Regions from separate parts of the Homo sapiens genome. Here regions 2, 3 and 4 are each reported to be linked to region 1. Evidence: microRNA targets listed by miRTarBase, many of them from high-throughput screens and not tested one by one. Region 1 holds a microRNA gene; each other region holds the end of a gene's coding sequence.
What was found. The annotated mature microRNA hsa-miR-1827 reads UGAGGCAGUAGAUUGAAU and lies in region 1 at 1,081-1,098, opposite strand. An mRNA with a match to its seed (bases 2 to 7 or 8) in the 3' UTR can be bound and repressed. Matches are read on the target gene's strand: a 7mer-m8 pairs with bases 2 to 8, a 7mer-A1 pairs with bases 2 to 7 and ends in A, and an 8mer does both.

Region 2: miRTarBase lists FAM118A as a target of hsa-miR-1827. Seed matches in the 3' UTR shown: 8mer at 2,152-2,159.
Region 3: miRTarBase lists RABAC1 as a target of hsa-miR-1827. The part of its 3' UTR that is shown has no 7-base or 8-base seed match.
Region 4: miRTarBase lists TES as a target of hsa-miR-1827. Seed matches in the 3' UTR shown: 8mer at 1,949-1,956.

Annotation. Positions count from the first base shown.
Region 1 is chr12:100,187,898-100,191,029 of GRCh38, reverse strand. MIR1827 (microRNA 1827) reads right to left here and starts at 1,146; the gene lies at 1,081-1,146.
Region 2 is chr22:45,339,940-45,343,071 of GRCh38, reverse strand. FAM118A (family with sequence similarity 118 member A) reads right to left here. Exons shown (of 9, transcript NM_017911.4): 9 at 1,117-2,686. The coding sequence ends at 2,667. Among named protein-coding and RNA genes, the nearest start is that of FAM118A, 32 kb to the right of the region's middle.
Region 3 is chr19:41,954,156-41,957,287 of GRCh38, forward strand. It overlaps RABAC1 (Rab acceptor 1), which reads right to left. Exons shown (of 5, transcript NM_006423.3): 4 at 2,863-2,964; 5 at 2,528-2,779. The coding sequence ends at 2,691. Among named protein-coding and RNA genes, the nearest start is that of RABAC1, 3.6 kb to the right of the region's middle.
Region 4 is chr7:116,257,044-116,260,175 of GRCh38, reverse strand. TES (testin LIM domain protein) reads right to left here. Exons shown (of 7, transcript NM_015641.4): 7 at 1,393-2,882. The coding sequence ends at 2,694. It overlaps LOC124901730 (a long non-coding RNA gene), which reads left to right and starts at 2,872. Exons shown (of 4, transcript XR_007060485.1): 1 at 2,872-3,132.

The DNA.
Region 1 (3,132 bases):
TTGTAAGTGCTCTGTAAATGGTGGCTACACACCCCAGGCCTGCTGGCATTGCTGCCACTGTTGCCCCTCTGACTCTTTTGAGCCAGTAGGTGAAGTGTGTCTCCACTCCCTTGGGTGGAGTGGACAGGGTGCCTTTCTCAAGGGCAGTTGTGAGGGCTGAGCTGGCCGGGAAGGTGTGCTCTTCCTTCCAGGCCTCCCTCCCACAGGTCTTCTGCGGGCCCTGCAGTTGGCCCTGCTCTGACTCTTAGTTTTTGCTTCATTCTTGACCCACTCAGGCCTGGTAGAAAGAGTTATCTGTGAGCACGGCGGGGGTTCCCAAGAATCTATTATGGTTTTAGTGTCTAGGACTCTAAAGTCGTGACAGTGACTCGTCTCTTCAGCCCCTGTTTGCAGCAGAGGGCGCAAACCAGCTCAAAGCAGGCACACAGATGTTTGGTGAATTGGGAGAAGTTGTTCCTGTCCAGGAGCCATAACGTGGTATTTGTAATTTTCCTCGTTGGAAGGCATGGCTCTGTCTGCCAAGAAAGACAAGGCATGTAGTCACCATGCTGCTGCCTCACAGTGACATTTTTAAAGCCAGACCTTCTAGAGAAGGAAGCAGGAAGGAAGGCGACTTGCTTTTGGGCCCGTGGAGTTTCAGCAGTTGCGGGAAGTTGGCTGGGCTGTGTGTGTGTGTTGCTGCATTGGTGCCTGGTCTTCTTTGATAGCTCCCAGGAGCATGAGGTTGTGCTTAGCAGTTGTGTCCCATCAGTCCTCTTGGTCTCGATCAGTTCACACGCTCCCAGGGCCCCACGTATCAGAAGGGCCGCCGTTGCATAACACTGTCCATGGAAATCACTGCAGTCATGAGAGGAGCAGTGGCTTTGGCCTGTAGACTCAGAGACCTTTCACCATGACTCAGCATGGGAAGCGGAGGCTCAGAGAACTTCAGCCTGTCTTGTCCAGGGCCACCAAGGGAGCAACTGAGCCATGTCTTCTGTTATATTTAGAGTTGGGGGCTGAGGAGGGGCGCCTATCTGCATTCTCTGCCGGTCCTGGGTCCACCTGTTGCAGGGACCCAATTCTAAGGGACCTGAATCAATTCAATCTACTGCCTCAGCCTTTCAGAGGCTTCTCATTGCTTTAGGCTGAAGGCTGTGCTGCTGAACATGGCCTTCAGGGTCCCATGGGGTCTGACTCCTGTCATTTCCTCTGTTGCAGGCCCACTTGACTTCTTGCAGTTCTTCAGATGTATTGTCTTCCCGACAGGCCCTGCCTCAGGCTGTCCCTTTGCAGGGCGGGCTGTCTCTTCTCTGGTTACTTCTGTTCGTTCTTCAGAGAAGCCTTCCCTGTTCCTCCCATTCCTCACTGCCGTGCTTCTCCTTCACAGCCCTTACCACTGCCTGTAGTTACTGTATTTCTTTGTGTACTCATCTGTGGTCTAGCTCCCTTGCAAGGCTGGGAGCTCCATGGGGCAGGGACCCTGTCTGTCTTGTCTCTGGTTTACCCCAGTGCCTCACACGGCCTGGTACATAGTGGGTGTCCAGCATCGACTTGAGGAAGAGTGATGAGGGAAGGCTCCAGACCCTTTCAGGGGCAGAGTTGCTCTACTGCTCCTGCTCCTGCTGCTTGGGGCTCATCATCCTCTGCCCTGCACACCCGTGGCAGGGGGGGTCTGCCCACACCCACCTGCCTTTGTGCCACACTCCCTTCCCTAGCAGGACGATGGTTCCTCTCAGCACTGTCCTTTTTGTTTGGCCTCCTGGTGGGAGGTGAAGCCAGCTGGACTTCCTGGGTCGAGTGGGGACTTGGAGAACTTTTCTGTCTAGCTAGAGGATTGTAAACACACCAGTCAGCGCTGTGTCTAGCTAAAGGATTGTAAATGCACCAATCAGCACTCTGTAAAAACGCACCAATCAGTGCTCTGTGTCCAGCTAAAGGATTGTAAACACACCAATCAGTACTCTGTAAAATGGATCAATCAGCACTCTGTAAAATGGACCAATCAGCGCTCTGTAAAATGGACCAATGAGCAGGATGTGGGCAGGGACAAATGAGGGAATAAAAGCTGGCCACCCCACCCAGCAGCGGCAACCTGCTCGGGTCCCCTTCCATGCTGTGGAACCTTTGTTCTTTCGCTCTTCATCATAAATCTTACTGCTGCTCACTCTTTGGGTCCGTGCCACCTTTAAGAGCTGCAACACTCACCGCAAAGGTCTGCAGCTTCATTCTTGAAGTTGGCGAGACTAAGAACCCACCAGAAGGAACCAATTCTGGACACTGGGAAGGATGTTACCTTCGGACACAGTGTTGTTCACTTTTTTGACTGGGAACCGACAGCAGATAATACACCTTTGTATGTAAATGTATACTGTCAGTATGTACATAAAACTGAAAGAAAAATGTCACTGCTACATATAGTAAAGCTAAGTACTATTTTCTCTTTTAATACTAAAAAAAATGCTTGTCCCCTCAAAATTGACTTCTTATCTTCTTAATTTGATATCCTGGCCCACAGTGGGTCACCACTCAAGTTTAGAGAAGCCCATTCTGCAGGACTGCCTGGCTGTGCAGCTGGTGCTCCCTCCCTCCCTGCTGCATTTTCCTCTCCCCCTCACTGTGGGATGGGGCTGAGGTTGTTCCCTTGGGTAAGAGGCTGTCCCTCCCTGCCTTCAGCAGTTTGAAGGGTTCTCAGGAAGACAGGCAGGCAAGGCCTGTGAGTCCTCTGCCACAGGTGCCGTAGGGTGCAGTTCAAGGCTGAACCCAGCATGTCACAGCCTCCCTGGGTGCACCAGGAAGAAATGGCTTATTCTTTGCGGTGTGGGTTTTGGGAGAGGCTAGTGATGGTTTTGCTCTGAAGACGAGTTTTGACTTAAAGGGCTTGAGCGATGGAGAGGGACTGGCCAAAGGGAAATGTAAGTTCAAGGACACCCATGCAGAGGCAAGGAAGTCAGAACAGGGTGTGTCTCACAAGTGGCATGGGTTCTCATGCCAGGTGCATAGGGTGCTTAAGGGGGTGAGGATAGAAGAGGAGCTGAGGAGGCCAGGGAGCCCAGGGTGAAGGGGTGGGGGTGTCTGCCCTTTGGGCAGTAGGGAACCAGTGGAGCTGTACCTGTCTGAAAGTTCTACAACAAGAGTATTGTTTCTTAGATG
Region 2 (3,132 bases), not on the chromosome of region 1:
TCTCGAACTCCTGGCCTTAAGTGATCCACCCGTCTCAGCCTCTCAAAGTGCTGGGATTACAGGCGTGAGCCACCGCGCTTGGCTGTTCTCTTTCATAACTTTGACTTATAGACTGTCAGTGATCCCACCAAGTTCAGTCATTTCTGATATAACAGAGCATGCCCAGTAACCTAATTTAAGGGCCACAGCACATATTCAGGCTTTGTTGAGATAGTAAGGAGGTTCTTAGCAGGTACTTGTATAACTATTTAAAATGTAACCATTTTATTTTTATTTTTTTTTAGATGGAATTCCCTCTGTCGCCCAGGCTGGAGTGCAGTGGTGCAATCTTGGTTCACTGCAACCTCTGCCTCCTTGGTTCAAGTGATTCTCCTGCCTCAGTCTCCCAAGTAGCTGGGATTACAGGCACACGCCACCACGCCAGGCTAATTTTTGTATTTTTAGTAGAGACAGGGTTTCACCATGTTGGCCAGGCTGGTCTCAAACTCCTGGCCTCAAGTGATCCGCCCCCCTCAGCCTCCCAAAGTGCTGGGATTACAGGTTTGAGCTACCTGCCCTGTCTTAAAATATAACCATTTTAAAATGTAATAGCTACTCTAGCTTGAGGCAGTAAACAGCAGGGCCAACTTTGTTACCTCCTGATGTGATGTTTCTCACGGACTAAACTATACACAAGCAAGTGCACTATGCTGGAATTGCCTTTAATCTATCAATCGGATTGGAATAAACTTTACATTCTACAACGAGCATACAACAGAACTGACTAGATACATCCATGTGGTGCAGCAACATGGCTGTGTCCTCCAGCAGAGCACACAAAGCTTTTCTTAAAAATGGGCTGTAATGAGCTTTACATCCTACTGCATAGCATCCTCTATGCTTGTAATTCTGCTATACCCTGTGTCTGGCCAGCTCTTAGATTCAGATATTCCCTGACTGCACTTACTAAATGACATTAAAGAAAAATTTATAATGTTTGCTTTTTAAAACATTTAAATACATTCAAGTAATCATTTAGTTGATTTCACAGTTGGGTGGCAACTCAAGCTAAAAATTCTCACTAAATAACATTCTAGCAAGCCTTGGCATAACTAAAGAAACACTGAGCACACAGGGTTGAAGTTAAAATTTTATTTATGGCTGGAGTGGCATAAAAGATTTGTTTTCCATGCTTCAAAAAGAAAAAAAAAGTTTTCAGGGCTTCTCTCCCTCCCTATGCATCCTACCCTTCTGTTTCCTGTTCTTAACTTTATCTGTACCTATGGGAGTCATCAATGGGGAGTGTCACAGGGCTTGGCAAGAAATGTCACATTGAAGATAAGTGGCCTCAAACTGAAACCAAGCAGGGCTGTTTGTTTCCAAAGAGAACCCTCCACTGTAGGGCCGCTCATGCACCGCCACAGAAGCCTCTGCCGGGTCACAGTCAGAGAAGCTCCCCGGGCACCGGCAGCACACTCAGCACAGCCGTTTCATGTGGGTGAACCTGAGAAGGTTTAAAGTGTTGCAGGCCCTTTTCAAGTTTTGCCTCCCTCACTCTCTGCAAACTCCCTTAATGTGGGCCATGGAAGAGAATTTTAAGAGACAATAACAGAAAGACTGGATATTACCCCAGAGAATAAAGACTTGCAAAGCCTGGAACTTATAATGTTTGAAACCTGGTCTCTCGAACTTGAGCTATCCCGGTTGTCAGTCCCACAGTGGCCGTGCACAATGTTGGCCTGGACTGAAAAGGGCCTCTGGCTCCTCCGATTTCAGTTCTTAGCAATATCAGACCTGTGTTTCTTTGGAACAGAAGTTACTAAAACAACCTAATTCCAAAGAAGCCCTTTTGATCCAGCTGTTCTCCCTAAAAACATTTTCGCTAGCGGATTCATTCTTTACTATTTAACAGTGGACCTTTAAAACGTACCTTTAAAATGCTTTCTATAGTAACATGTTTCCACATACAAATTATAAAATGTGTTTATTTTGCTGGGCGCAGTGGCTCATGCCTGTAATCCTAGCACTTTGGGAGGCCAAGGCGGGTGGATCACCTGAGGTCAAGAGTTCGAGACCATCCTGGCCAACATGGTGAAACTCCAACTCTACTAAAAATAAAAAAATTAGCTGGGCATGGTGGTGGACGCCTGTAATCCCAGCTACTCGGGAGGCTGAGGCAGGAGAATCACTTGAGCCCAGGCGGTGGTGGCTGCAGTGAGCTTGAGATCGTACCACTGCACTCTGTCCTGGGTGACAGAGTGAGACTCTGACTCAAAAAAAAAAAGTGTCTATTTCGTATTTTCTCTTTGGCAGCTACTGTTGCTTGGACAGTCTTTACTCTTCCCCTTTTATTACGAAAAATACCACCTTGACAAAAGAGAGCCTGTCAGATGGGAACGGGAACACCAGGTCCATCCCTTCCCACGGATTCTGGTCCCTGAGGTAGCTATCCATCAGTCCTTGCAAAGTCCACCTGAAATGTGTCCGCGTCACCCTCCTGCATAGTTCAACACACAGGGGAGCCCTCTCACCCAGCCTTGAGGGCCACATGCCCATGTGGCTCTCTTGGTGTATGTGACGGTTTCGCAATCAGAGATCCACGTGGAGTTCTCCATACATTCCTCTTCGTTTGGGCACTGTGGTTACAGAAGGCTAGTTTTCAAGTTGCAGGTTTTACTGTAAAGATTTCAAGACCCTCCAGCATCATCTGTTTAAATAAAAGAATGAAATGCCCAAGGGTTAAAGTCCAGCTAAAAGAAGTTATTTGCAATAGATTTCTATTTCAGAAACTGCTTTACAATTGTTCTTATGTACGGAAGACTTTGAAAACCCCTCCACAATGGAAACAGTAGCCACTGTCTGGAAATGACCTTGTGTAATTATCAGTACTATCAGGGGATCAAGCAAATGATGACATTACATTTGCAACGATCTGTGGGAATCTCAATCCATGAACATGGATGCTCTTTTATTTCTTAGTGGACTGAGGATGGGGCAATTTCAACAAACATACAGTGAGAGCCTGTTGGAGGTATGGAGAAGAATAAGCCTGTCGATTCCTCTGGGATCCCCAGGCTTGGCTTCTCTCACCCACATGCAGGACAGGCCAGGGCTTTCTGTACAACAGAGGCCAGGAGCTTCGCCCTAAGGAGA
Region 3 (3,132 bases), not on the chromosome of region 1:
TGCTGGGATTACAGGTGTGAGCCACCATGCCCAGCCTATAAAAATTATTGAGATATTTTACTCCATTTTCATACTAAATCTTCGAAGTCTGGTGTGCATTTCACACTCATAGCATGTCTCAGTTTGGACCAGCCATGTTTGAGGCAGCCGCATATGGCTGGCCACCATATCTGACAGGAGAATTCCAGAACAGTGGGCATCAGTGGGCTCTGGGTGAGCACCTGCTGCATCAAGGATGAGTGGGTGAGTTCTGCTGAGGAGACACGAGGTTGGAGAGGCTGCATCCCTGAGGCCTTGGCACTCGCTGTCCCTCTCCTTGGGAAACTCCACCCACTTCTTGTGTCTCCTCAGAGAGCCCTCCCAGACCACCCCTATCTAAAGTAATTGGCGGGGCACGGTGGCTCACACATGTAATCCTAGCACTTTGGGAGGCCAAGACAGGTGGATCACCTGAGGTCAGGAGTTCGAGACCAGCCTGGGCAACACAGTGAAACCCTGTCTCTACCAAAAATACAAAAAAATCAGCCGGGCGTGGTGGCAGGCGCCTGTAATCCCAGCTACTCGGGAGGCTGAGGCAGGAGAATCACTTGAAACCGGGAGGTGGAGGTTGCAGTGAGTCGAGATCGCGCCATTGCACTCCAGCATGGGCAACAAGAGCGAAACTCCATCTCAAAAAAATTAAAAAATAAAACTAAAAATACAAAAATTAGTCAGGCGTGTTGGTGGGCACCTATAATCCCAGCTACCTGGGAGGCTGAGGCAGGAGAATAGCTTGAATCTTGGAAGTGGAGGTTACAGTGAGCCGAAATCACACCATTGCTCTCCAGCGTGGGCGACAGAGAGAGACTCCATCTCAAAAAAATAAACAAATAAATAAAAATAAAAAAATCAAGTCACTTCTTAGGCCCTCTCGGCCACCTCCCTTGTCTTCATCTGCCTGGCACTTTCCCTCCCAAGTGTGTTTCTCTTTTGTTACTGCTACCACGTGGCAGTCTCCACCTCATGATGAAAGGCAAACTGGACCCGGCACGGTGGCTCATGCCTGTAATCCCAGAACTTTGAGAGGCTGAGGCAGGAGGATTGCTTCAGCCCAGGAGTTTGAAACCAGGCCAGGCAACATAGTGAGACCCTGTCTAATGAAAAGTTAAAAAAAATTAGCTGGGTGTGGTGGCGTGCACCTGTGGTCCCAGCTGCTCAGGAGGCTGAGGTGGGAGGCTCACTTGAGCCCAAGAGGTAGATGCTGCAGTGAGCAGTGGTCACACCACTGCACTCCAGCCTGGGCCATAAAGTGAGACCCTGTCTCAAAAAAACAAAAGGCAAGAAGCAAACTGGGCTGGACACAGTGGCTCACACCAGTAGTCCCAGCACTATGGGAGGCTGCAGGGGGAGAATCGCTTGAGCCCAGGAATTTGAGACCAGCCTGGGAAACAAAGCAAAATCCATCTCACAAAAGCAAACTGTGTCTTTCATCTCAAGCAGAGTAAAACCCAAAGCCCTCACCGTGGCCCACAAGGCTCCCTGGCCTCCCACACTGTCCCCCTCGCTTATCTGCCCCAGCCACGCCCACCTCCTGGCTGCCCTCGAGCCTCCTGGCTGCTGCCATCTCCCAGGCTATGCCCCTGTGGCTTCCTCTGCCCCAATTATTCTTCCTCCAAAGGATCTGGGCTGCTCCCTCTCTCAATTTAGGTCTTTGGTGAATGTCACGTCAGGGAGGCCTTTTCTGGTCACCCTCTTTAACCCACAACTCATTCCCGAACTTTCTCTGTGCAGAAAAGAGTTAACCTGGCAGGCTCCACAACAGACTGCTGTCCTTAGACAGGCCTGGGTGCACAGTTGGTCCTTGGCTGGGAACTTGGGTGTTGGGGGGGGGGTCTTATCACTTCCTGATAGAGTGGCTCGCTGCATCTATCTAGGCTGTTCGTGCAGGCCTAGAGTGGCTTGCTGCATCTATCTAGGCTGTTCGTGCAGGCACAGGCCTTCTTTCTGGGAGCCTGGCATTTTGGTATATGTTGGAGAGAAGGTGCTCTTGTGGCCGCCCCCATGAAACCAAGGGCGCTGAGGCTAGGATCAGAGTGTCCCTGGCTGACATTTCACACGTCACCATGATCCACTGCTGGAGGAATTAGGTGTGGCCTCTGGAAGTGCATGCCTGGTTTCCCGAGTTCACTCCATGCACCTTTCCTTTTGGCTGACTTGGCTCCATACCCTTTGATGAGAGTAAATCAGAGCTGTGAGTGCAATTGCATACTGAGTCCCCAGTCCCAGAGAACCATCAAACCTGGGGTGCTCTCTGATTCCTGAGTCCTAAAGAACCATCAAACCTGGGGGTGGTCTCGGGGACCCCCGGCACACTGTCCTTCTCAACTCTTTTCTCCTCCTGAACACTCACCACCATTGGGCATCCCATAATATTTTACCTGTTTACCTTGTCATCGTCTTGCCCACACCCCAGGTTCCACCCCAACCCTGCTCTGTGCAGTATTCCCAGCTCCACCCATAGAGACCCACAGAAGATGCTGGGGGAATATTTCCTGAATGACACCCATAACAGCTTTATTTTCAAAGGCGGGATCCCTCCCCGGGCTTGTGATGGGACGGCGCTGTGGGCCCGAGCAGCAGAGCCGTGCAGGACAGGCATGGGCAGGGGTGGGGCAGCTGGCCCGGGAGGCCGGCAGGTCCCAGAAGACACCTCACACGGGTTCCATCTGCAGCTCCTCCCCGTCCACAGCCTCAATCTGGTGGAAGGCAGCGTGGGAGCCGATGACCACCAGGGTGGCTCCTGCAGGAAAGCCGGCAGCTCAGGGCCACACTCCTGCACCTGGCTCCCACCATCCACCCCAGCTGCTCAGACCCTGTACTCACCCAGCACCCAGAAGACGGCCGAGCCCGCACCAGCCAGCCAGAAGAAGGGGAAGGAGATGCCTCCAGCCAGAGCATACTGATGCGCTGGGCTCACCTCTCGGCCTGGGGGCAGATGGCATTGGGGTGCTGTTCCGACTCTCCATGCCCTCTCCCAGAGTAACCCCTGCTGCCCCCCAACAATCCGTACAAGCTCCAGGTTCTCGGGATCGAATCCAAACTCCTCATGCCAAGGCCCTCCAGGTCCTGGGGTCACCCTGTTCCCCTGCTGTC
Region 4 (3,132 bases), not on the chromosome of region 1:
CTTTTTATAGAGACATTGACGGAAACCCAAGTTTTCCAAAGAATTAAGTGAATACCCAGAAGACAAGTTCAGATATGCCAAGGCATCTCAAGACAAAGGCTGAATACTGATCTTGGGTGTTGGTGTCTCTTTGGTAACTACGGTGAAGTTGTATAAGCTTAAACGCTATGTGTTGGAAATTCCTTGAGAATGAATCAGTGATGAATCCCTTGCCTTTGGTGAAATTGGGCTGAAATACTTCAAAGTCAAATTTGGAAATCTATGCTTGAAGACTTCAGTAATAGAAGTTTCAGCTAGTCAATGAAAAGAAAGAATAATCCCTAACTCATTTGCCGCCCCCCCCACCTCAAAAAAAAAAAAAAAAAAAAAAAGGAAGGAGGAAAGGGAGATATGTAGGTACCATGCAACAAATATGAAGGCTAGTATGTCTCAAGAGCAATCCAGATTTCCTAAGGGATTGGCCGTGTTAGTAGCAGATGGGTTCTGTTTCAGTTTATTCTCACTTAGCCATGTCTGGGAAAAGTTAAGTTGTACAACTTTGTGGACAATATGCTGTGGAAAATATATTTGTTGCCATTTAAGATAAAGATATGAGCAACCATAAAGCGATCTTTATAGACAGTAATGATACTTGTGATATTAGCTTCTAAAATTATATGCAGAATTAGATTACTTTAGATAAGGTGACACGTATCCAAGCTCCAAAAGTTACTTTTGCATGGTTGAAGGCATAGTGCAGAAGGAGTAAATTTGTATGCTTGGTATGCACATGTGCATGTGTGTGTGGTGGTGGGGAGTGGAGAGGTGGAATGTAAAGAGAAGTACTATTGGCCAAACAGGAGCTGGAAAAAAAAAAAAGTCAAGTTATTCTGGGTATGTATCAGAGAAAACTGCAACTCCCACTATGACAGAAATAATTGTAGACTGAGGGAGAAAGTATTATGGCCTGCTAACATTAGGAAGCATGAGTCTACCACTATTCCCCATTTGCTTTCTGTCTCACGATAAGTTTCCATGAAAAAATTCTTCTTTTAATATTTTTTACATATAAAGAAACCAGAGTTGAAACCCAAGTATAAAAGGCTTGTTAGATCCAACTGAATAGAAAATAAGCTCTCCCAAATTTTAATTAAAATTACTTTCCCTTTCTTTGAAAAAGAAAAAAACTCTTGCATGACCAAACTTAAAAGTCCTGATTTGAAAGTTTCATAAACCTTATCTTTTCTCCATAATGAAACATCTAGATTCTGTGCTGTCCTGTCAGAGGCAGACTTTTATTTTCGTTTGGGTAATTTTTATCCTTGGAGACATCGCCCCCTGCTGTAACACATGCTTAGTTGCAGAAGCATTTTTCACTCAAAAAAGGATATGAATAAAAAGATACAATGATTATTAAAGTGAAAGAAACTTTATTTTGAGTAATATACATATCATTCATTCCATTTAATTTTCATAGTGCATAGCTATGTGTAGAAGTACACAGGGAAGAATAAACATTAGAAATACCTAGCCATGAAAATATACAAGTGAAGACATTTGATATATCCATGGACAGGCTTGGAAGTATTATAAAACAGGATCCATTAGGAAAGAATAAAAACCATGCAAAAAAAATCTTATCTAAATCATGGCAGGCAAGTGCAATCAATATAAATCATAGTCTCTGGGTACAAAAACTATACATGTTCTTTGGATTAAAAGCAAATGGGTGGCTTGGCTTTTATGTCCAAGCCAAAAATCATCTATACAAGTAAAAAGTGTGTGGGTCAGGCATGGTGGCTCCCACACCTGTAATCCCAGCACTTTGGGAGGCCAAGGCAGGCGGATCATCTGAGGTCAGGAGTTTGAGACCAGCCTGGCTAACATGGTGAAAACCTGTCTCTACTAAAAATACAAAAATTAGCTGGGTGTGGTGGCATGCACCTGTAATCCCAGCTATTTGGGAGGCTGAGGCAGGAGAATTGCTCAAAATAAAAAAAAAAAAATAAAGAACTAAAAAGTGTGGATACTGTTATGCCACATGTGATAATAAAATATTCAAGGCCACAGATGCAAGTCACCAACTTACAAAGAGAATACTGAAGGTAGGGTACATTAAAAAAATAGAGAAATGCAATAAAGAAAATGCCACCTCTGCCTAAATCAGGAAAGAGTAAATGCATAGGCATTAAAACAGCAGCTCTGCATACTACACTGCATTTCTCTTTGTCAAAAAGAATTCACTGTGTATCATTACAAAGGTCAGTGAATAAGACGAGGCAATAAACGTAGCGCCTTGGTATTAGGGCAAATTTAGTTTTCTTTTCATTTTACACATGAGGGGGAAAAAAGAAGTGTAGAACTAGGAATGCTCATCTTTCCATTCAGTACACTAACTTTTAAGTGTGTGGCACAAATGGAATAGAGACATGAAGTTTAATGAGATCCAAGCTTCCAAAAATGATTTCACATTTGAAAAGCTATGGAAAGATACAATTATTTACTGTTTTACAAATCAAATGCTTAAACCAAGTTTAAAAGTTGAGACCGAAAAAAAATTGATGAAGAAAAAATGGCCAAAAAAATTAAACAAAATCTCTTGGTTTCCTTTACAGTTTCTTTTTTTGCGTTTTATTTTTTTCAAATTGCATTTTACAGTAGAAATGCAGACCACTTTGGATAGCTATGGCTCGATACTTCTGGGTGCCCTCCTCCTAAGACATCCTCTTCTTACATTCCACTGAACAGAAAACCATCCCTTCTACTGGCATGAACTTCTGCCCAATGAGGCATTTGCTGCAGCAAGAGCACAGAAAGCACTCTGTGGATGCATGCCAGCTGAAATTGTTATAGGTCACCCGCTGCACTTCTGGGTCGATGGCATTGTGGCATCCTTGACACACCTATTAAGAAATAATACAAGAGAAGAGGGTGAGAGATCAAGCTGTAATGGTAACATTTTCATCTTAGGACATATTTCTTTAGATGATAAATTAAAACTCATAATGACAACCTCAGAAATACACAATGGAGGGTGGCCTTCTAGCTAACCTTTTTGGCCAACTGTTAATGGAGGTCAATATTCTGAGCAGCCTGAGAAATAACGAGTGAAGGCCAAACAGGTGATTTGATGCATGTAAGATAACTTCATGG